Homo sapiens: one gene and its partner. The protein of the gene in region 2 purifies or fractionates together with the protein of the main gene of each other region. This does not show direct contact. Each region holds a gene or a part of one and is shown on either strand. Other genes may lie near its edges.

Region 1 (3,649 bases), on a different chromosome or scaffold from region 2:
AGTTGAGGCCCTTCTAGCATTCTCAGGTGCCTGAGAGGCTCTGTCTGAGTGCAGCTCAGGGTCGGTGGGCAGCAGGCCTGCCTGGTGGTGTCTGTCTCTGGAGAGTGACTTGGTCTATCTTTTGTTTCTGAAAAGCAAGATATCTGGGTAGTACTGGGTTGAGAGTGTGATTAACCAAGGAGTAATCTGAGGCTTGACTTTGTTTGCTTAGAGCGGGGTGTGTGTTTGTCTGTGTCTGGTGTATGTCTGAGGGGTTGTGCAGGCCCAGTGTGATGTGTGGGGTGAGGCTGTCTCCGGGTGGGGCTGAGGAGCTGTCCAGTCGGGGGTCCTGTGTCTGAGGGGCAGGCTCTCTGTGTGGGTATAGGTAGGCATCGTGTGTCTTGAGGGCGGGCTGGGGTAAAGGTTGTCCAGGTTGGTGTCCTGTGTCTGGGGTCAGCTGTTTCTGGGGCAGTCTGAGGGGTCGTCCAGGTGGACTAAGGTAGTCTGGGGTGGGTGGTAAGAGCCTGAAGTGGGGTTTTTGAGAACATGCGTAGATTCTGAAGACAGGAGGGGCAGGCAGGTTGTGGTGGTCTCCCTTCACCTGTTTGTTGTCCCCACACCCAATCCCCCAGGACATGTTGGAGTTCCCAGCCCAGGAACTTAGAAAATACTTCAAGATGGGGGACCACGTGAAGGTGATTGCTGGCCGATTCGAGGGCGACACAGGCCTCATTGTGCGGGTGGAGGAGAATTTCGTTATCCTGTTCTCTGACCTCACCATGCATGAGGTAGGTGGATAGAAGGGTCGGGGAAGGGTGCACGTGCCAAGAGGAGACCCAGGTAGGCGAGCCACCTGGACTGGGCCTCACCCCTTTCACCATCCCTGGCAGCTGAAGGTGCTCCCCCGGGACCTGCAGCTCTGCTCAGAGACAGCATCAGGTGTGGATGTTGGGGGCCAGCATGAATGGGGCGAGCTGGTGCAGCTGGATCCCCAGACTGTGGGTGTCATCGTGCGACTAGAACGGGAGACCTTCCAGGTGTGTGTGTTGTGCTCTGTGGCGGGGACTTGCTTTTAGGAGGCTTCCTGTCCCTCAACCCCTCATCCTGGGAGGTGGCAGAGCCCCCAGACTGCTCTGGGTTGCAGATCTGGCTCTGTCACTTACATCTGAATGGCTGATAGTGGGCACATGGCAAGTCATTGATCCCTCCCCTTGCCTGTTTTCACACCCTATAAAATGGAAACGAGAGCAGCGTCTACTTTGTTCATAGTGAATGATTCCCTGAGGTTAGATCTGTACCCTGGTGGCTGTTGCTCGCTCAAGGATGGAGTGCCACATGTGCCCTCCTGCCTTTGCTCCTTCCTCATGGATGTGGGAGTCATGGAGCACAGTACTTAGGATCCTGGACTCCACATCCACATCTTGGCTTTGTTGCTCCTGTGCTGTCTGACCCTGGGCTAGTGACTCACCCTCTCTGAGCCTGAGTTTCCCTCTGTAAGATGGAAATCATGACAGAATCCACCTCAGAGGAAGTTTTGAGGCTTCAGTGAAATCTTACGGGGCCTGACACAGAATGATGGATGAACAATGTTGCTATCAGCCCCTTCTTCCATCTCTCAGGTCCCTGTTGCCCAATCGGGGGTGGAGTCTCCTTCCAAAGGGTGTTTTAGAATGACTGGGAACATTTTTGGTTGACCCAGTACCTAAAGGGTGGCACTCTGCCTGCCTGCCCCGCAGCCAGGGAATTGAGATGCCTTGTGGAGCTTGGGACTGTCTCCCACAAGGAAGGATTATCCCACTTTAGGGAACCCCTGCCCCGTGTCTCCCCTTCCCATTCTCACCCCCACAGCCTCCCTGCTCTCCCTCTGTAGGTGCTGAACATGTACGGGAAGGTGGTGACTGTCAGACATCAGGCTGTGACCCGGAAGAAGGACAACCGCTTTGCTGTGGCCTTGGACTCAGAGCAGAACAACATCCATGTGAAAGACATCGTTAAGGTCATTGATGGCCCCCACTCAGTGAGTACAAGTTCCTGCTTTTGAGCTGCATCTGAAAGAATTTGGTTGGTTGGGGGTGAGGGGGACATGGTCAAGAGAGTGACCCTTCTCTCCCCGGCTAGGGCCGAGAAGGGGAGATTCGCCATCTCTTCCGAAGCTTCGCCTTCCTACATTGCAAGAAACTGGTGGAGAACGGGGGCATGTTTGTCTGCAAGACCCGCCACCTGGTGCTGGCTGGGGGCTCAAAGGTGAGGTGGGCATGGCAGGACCCTGTGCGTTGGGTACCTGGCTCAGCTCTCCAAGCCTCCTCTGGCCCCAGAAGTGATAAGATTGGGCTTGTGAGGGATTAGGAGAGCAGTGTCATTGTCAGGTCCTTGGCAAAGAGTGAGAAGGTTTATTTGGGATTCTGAGCTGTTCACCAAGTTATTTTAAGTTATTTATTCATTTCATTTTACTGAGCACCTGTTAGGTGCCAGACACTGGAGAACCAGTGGTGAACAAGACAAAAATACTCTGCTCTCACAGAGCTGATACTCTAGAGGTGGACAGACAGATAAACCCATCGTACAGCTTGAGGTGATAGCAAGCGCTGTGAAGAAAACAGAATGGGCTCAGGAGACAGGGAGTGACCAGGGCTGCTGTTTTAGACAGAGGAGGGTAAAAAAGGCCTCAGTGGGAGGCAGTATTGGAGCAGAGACCTGAATGAAGGGATGGAGAGTGAGCATTTTGGGGGAACAGCAAGTGCAAAGGCCCTGAGGTGGGGCTTGTAGGAAAGTGTGCAGGACCAGCTGTCACAGAGGAATTCAGGCCTGGGGTGTGGGTGGCTGGGTGGTCTCCTCAGGGCCCTGCACGTGGGATGATGAGTTCCTGTGGTTTGTGGTTCCCCCATCCCCTGCCTGCCAGTTCACTCCTTGCTTCTATCCTAGCCCCGTGATGTGACCAACTTCACCGTGGGTGGCTTTGCGCCTATGAGTCCCCGGATCAGCAGCCCCATGCACCCCAGTGCTGGAGGTGAGAGGGGTTCAGGGTCAGGGGATGTGGTGGGTAGAAGGGGCTGGAAGGAACTTGGTTGTTCAGCCTACACTCACTGAGTGCCTGTGCTGGGCTGGGCACTGCTATTAGGGGTTCACCACCCACAGGAGGGTAGACGCCACAGTGACAGCCCAGAATGGTCAGGGCTTCCATAGGAAAGCCATGGGGCAGGGGTGGGCAGAGGAGGCTCTTAACCCAAGTAGGGAGGAGTCAAGCAAGTGAAGGGGACGTTCTGATGGTGCCCTTGCTGTGGGCACAGCCGTGGGGGACCAGTGACATTCTCCCCAATCCCCAGGTCAGCGTGGCGGCTTTGGTAGCCCAGGTGGCGGCAGTGGTGGCATGAGCAGGGGCCGGGGCCGGAGGGACAACGAACTCATCGGCCAGACCGTGCGCATCTCCCAGGGGCCCTACAAAGGTGACCTGCGAGGCCTGTGGAGGCCTGGGGAGGGGCATGGTGAAGGAGAGCCTGCCCAGCCTGACCTCCTGTCCCCCTGCAGGCTACATCGGTGTGGTGAAAGATGCCACAGAGTCCACGGCCCGTGTGGAGCTGCACTCCACCTGCCAGACCATCTCTGTGGACCGTCAGCGGCTCACCACGGTGTACGGGCGGGGCCTGGGGAGGGCCAGGGTGGGGCTTGCTAG
Region 2 (3,649 bases):
ACCAGGGTAGAAGCTACTTCCTGGCACCACACCAGGGACAGGGCAAGCTGGGTGTTAGGTTTTTACCACCAGCAGGCAAGCTCCTGCTGTGCCTGGCCAGCTTTTAGGCACAGGCAGGTGTCAGACAGGTTCGTCTGGACCGTGGACTTGGCAGCTGGCTCCCTTGGACATTGTGGAACGTGGAAGAGAAGCTGGAAGATTTGGGCTTTGGTCCAGAGTCCACCACTTGTTTATTGACCATAAGAAAGTTTCCGTTCCTCTTACCCTGAGTTTCTTCAGCTGGAAAATGGGAGCCATGATTTTCCCACCTAGCAGAGGGCCTTAGACAGTGAAGTGAGCTGACTAGGAAGTCCTTCCCCTGGACCTGGCTAAAAGTTCATCCACTCCATGTGGTCTCTCCCTTTCCTGAGTAGGGCTTGGTCTCCCCGTCTCGAAAGTGAAGCTAAACCTCTCAGGCTGGTGTGACACAGCATTAGAGATAAAAACCTTGTGTAACTGAAGTGCTGGACATATTTAAGGTGTGACTGTTGAGCTGTTAGCAGTCCTGCGTCCCCTGACCTGCACCGATGGGTGGCGTGGGATGTTGAAGAGCAGTTCAGCAGCAGTGGCCACCCCGCTGGGAGAAGGGGCTCCTGCCCATGACCAGGGCCCCTTGCCTTTCCCCACAGATCCTGGCTGCAGCTCTGACCGAATGTCACCGGAAATCCAGTGCCCAAGGCAAGCCTCTGGCCCTGAAGGTCTTTGTGGCTGGCAGAAACCGTCTGGAGAATGATGGCGCCACTGCCTTGGCAGAAGCTTTTAGGGTGAGTGGTTTCTGTCCATCCTGCCCCTGCAGCCTTGAGGTGCACTCGGCATAGTAGGCTGACAGTTCTGGATGCTAATCCCAGGGCTGGCACTCAACCAAGAGACCTGGGGCGTCACGTGCCCTCTCCAAGCCTGTTAACCCATCCGAAAATGAGCCAGAATTCCTGTCGTGCATTTCTGGAAAGGTGTGTGACTTTCCGGAAAGGTGTGTGACTGGCTCCCACTGGTGAGCCAGCCCCTATGGGGCTTCAGGCCAGGCAGGCCACTCTGACCAAGGAGTGTCATCTGCCAGGCTCAGAAGTGGTGAAGTGAGATGGTGCGAGTGCTGACAGTAGCCTGGCCCAGCCACTGGTGTGGGGCACAGAGAAGGAACATACCAGACCTCCAAGACAGGGAGATAGGCAGGGGCAGCCGCAGGGCTCAGGTGCCAAATGACGTGCTCTCAGGTGACCTTATCCCCACTCCTCTTCCACTCTCCTCTCCCCATCCCCGCAGGACATTGCTGAGTCCCCGATCGTGAGTGCCAGCAGAAGGCTACACTTGCCCCTAACAGGACTGAAAACTTTGGGGTCTGTCTCCCTCCTCTCTTTCCTGTTTTTTTTGAGGCAGAGTCTCATTCTGTCACCCATGCTGGAGTGCAGTGCGTGATCTTGGCTCACTGCAGTCTCCGCCTCCCAGGTTCAAGCAGTTCTGCCTCAGCCTCCCGAGTAGCTGGAATTACGGGCACCCGCCACCACACCCGGCTAATTTTTGTATTTTTATTAGAGACGGGGTTTTACCATGTTGGCCAGGTGGTCTCGAACTCCTGACCTCAAGTGATCTGCCCGCCTGGGCCTCCCAAAGTGCTGGGATTACAGGCGTGAGCCACCACGTCCGGCCCCTCTTCTCTTAATTTAAATGTTTTCTTCAGCAAACAGTATCCTAGGAGCATTGCTCATACGGGCCGGAATGTCCTGGCTGCCCATCGAGGCTGTCTGTAGATACCCTTTGCCTGCTTCAGTGCCAAGTGAACATCGCAGAGATCTGCCTTGTGTCTCCCTGCACCCCTGGCTGCAGGGGAGCTCCTGCTGCCTCCTCTGGAGCTGGTGGGGGCCTCACTGCCATCCTTGGATCCCTCCCTGCCGTCAGCCTGCTGTCCTCAGTGCACTGGGAGGAGGGGGTGCGCTGTGGTTGTGTTGAGCCTTCATAGGTGTCCTCTGGTGGGCTTAGAATGGGGGTTCTTAATCCCCCCCAGTATGTGGATAGAATTCAGGGGTCTGTGAACATGGATGAGGAAAAAATAACATTATTATTTATTACTAATGTAGCTAAAATATGTAGTGTGACCTTTGATTATAAATGTAGACAATAAACCTCACAGCATTAGAAAGGCCTGTGACTACCCACATAACAAACAAGCACATGTAGTCCCTGAACCCAAAAAAAAAAAAAATTTTATTGAGGCAGGGTCTCGCTCTGTTGCCCAGGCTGGAGTACAACGGTGCAATCTCAGCCCACTGCAGTTGAAGCTTCCCAGGCTCAAGTGATCCTCCCACCTCAGCCTCCCGATTAGCTGGGACTACAGGTGTGCACCACCATGCCCACCCAGTTAATTTTTGTATTTTAGTAGAGATGGGGTTTCACCATGTTAGCCAGGCTGGTCTCAAACTCCTGACCTCAGGTAATCCACTCGCCTTGGCCTCCTAAAGTGCTGGGATTATAGGCATAAGCCACTGCGCCCAGCTTAAAATTTTTAAAAAAATAAAAAGAAAATCTTGTGACTTTATCCCCAGTGGAAATCACAGGTATTTCATATGAAGTTATAGTTACTGCTGATATATAGAAATATTTCTCACTACATCAAAATTACAGTAATAGTGGACCCACCCCTAGATCTTGTTATTTGGTGCATTAACAAGAAGTTTGTATATCACTACAGCATGCGTTTGGAGTTTTTTCCTAAATGTTTTGATAACTGTTCCAACTGAGTTGATTTCCTTTGTAATTCTGTGTAATTTATCTTAAAATTTTAAAAAAACATTTTTTGAGGAGGGGACCCAGGGGCTTCACCAGACTGCCTGAAGGGTTCATGGCACAGAAAATACTAAGAAGGCCTGACCTGGAGTGTGCCCAGGTTGGCCTTCCTGTATTTATTTGTGGACCACCCGCTCCCCCCATTGCCCTGTGCTGCACTGAGCACCTGAAGACAGCAGAAGATTCCTTGGCACAGTTAAGCCAGGCCAACCCTCAGTCCTGGGTCACAGTGGAGACTGGGACATGGCCCTCTCCTCCAAAGCTCAGGGGCCGATGGGATGCAGACGGAATATAGGCTTTGAATGTAGGCAGGATGAGGACCACCGTGATAGAGGAGGGACCAGGTGCTCCGGGAGCACAGAGGAACGCACACTGGATCGTGGCTGGGGGAATCCAGGAAGCCTTCCTGGGAGAGGAGGTGACCAAAACAAGAGCCCTAGAACTCATATGAGTTAGCCTGTCAAGAAAATGCTGAATGGCTGGGTGTGGTATCTCACGTCTGTAATCCCAGCACTTTGAGAGGCCGAGGAAGCTGGATCGCCTGAGGTCAGGAGTTCAAGACCAGCCTGGCCAACATGGTGAAACCTCCATCTCTACTAAAAATACAAAATTAGTCGGGTGTGGTGGCGCACGCCTGTAATCTCAGCTACTCAGGAGGCTGAGGCAGGAGAATCACTTGAACCTGGGAGGCAGAGGTTGCGATGAGCCAAGATCATGCCATCACACTCCAGCCTGGGCGACGGAACGAGACTCCGTCTCAAAAAAGGAAAAAAAAAGAAAAAAGAAAAAGAAAATAAGGAGGCAGAGAGAATGGGTATCAAAAGGCCAGGCT

Evidence for each region. The genes of interacting proteins can lie anywhere in the genome.
Region 1: the proteins of RANGAP1 (region 2) and SUPT5H fractionate together in Homo sapiens (co-fractionation; one large-scale study listed by BioGRID). This does not show direct contact.

What each region holds. Positions count from the first base shown.
Region 1 is NC_000019.10:39,469,508-39,473,156, forward strand, and holds part of SUPT5H (transcription elongation factor SPT5), read left to right. Parts: intron 1-611; coding exon 612-767; intron 768-869; coding exon 870-1,016; intron 1,017-1,849; coding exon 1,850-1,996; intron 1,997-2,097; coding exon 2,098-2,223; intron 2,224-2,901; coding exon 2,902-2,986; intron 2,987-3,302; coding exon 3,303-3,422; intron 3,423-3,504; coding exon 3,505-3,607; intron 3,608-3,649. UniProt on the Homo sapiens protein: Component of the DRB sensitivity-inducing factor complex (DSIF complex), which regulates mRNA processing and transcription elongation by RNA polymerase II.
Region 2 is NC_000022.11:41,258,600-41,262,248, reverse strand, and holds part of RANGAP1 (ran GTPase-activating protein 1), read left to right. Parts: intron 1-668; coding exon 669-803; intron 804-3,649. UniProt on the Homo sapiens protein: GTPase activator for RAN. Converts cytoplasmic GTP-bound RAN to GDP-bound RAN, which is essential for RAN-mediated nuclear import and export. Mediates dissociation of cargo from nuclear export complexes containing XPO1, RAN and RANBP2 after nuclear export.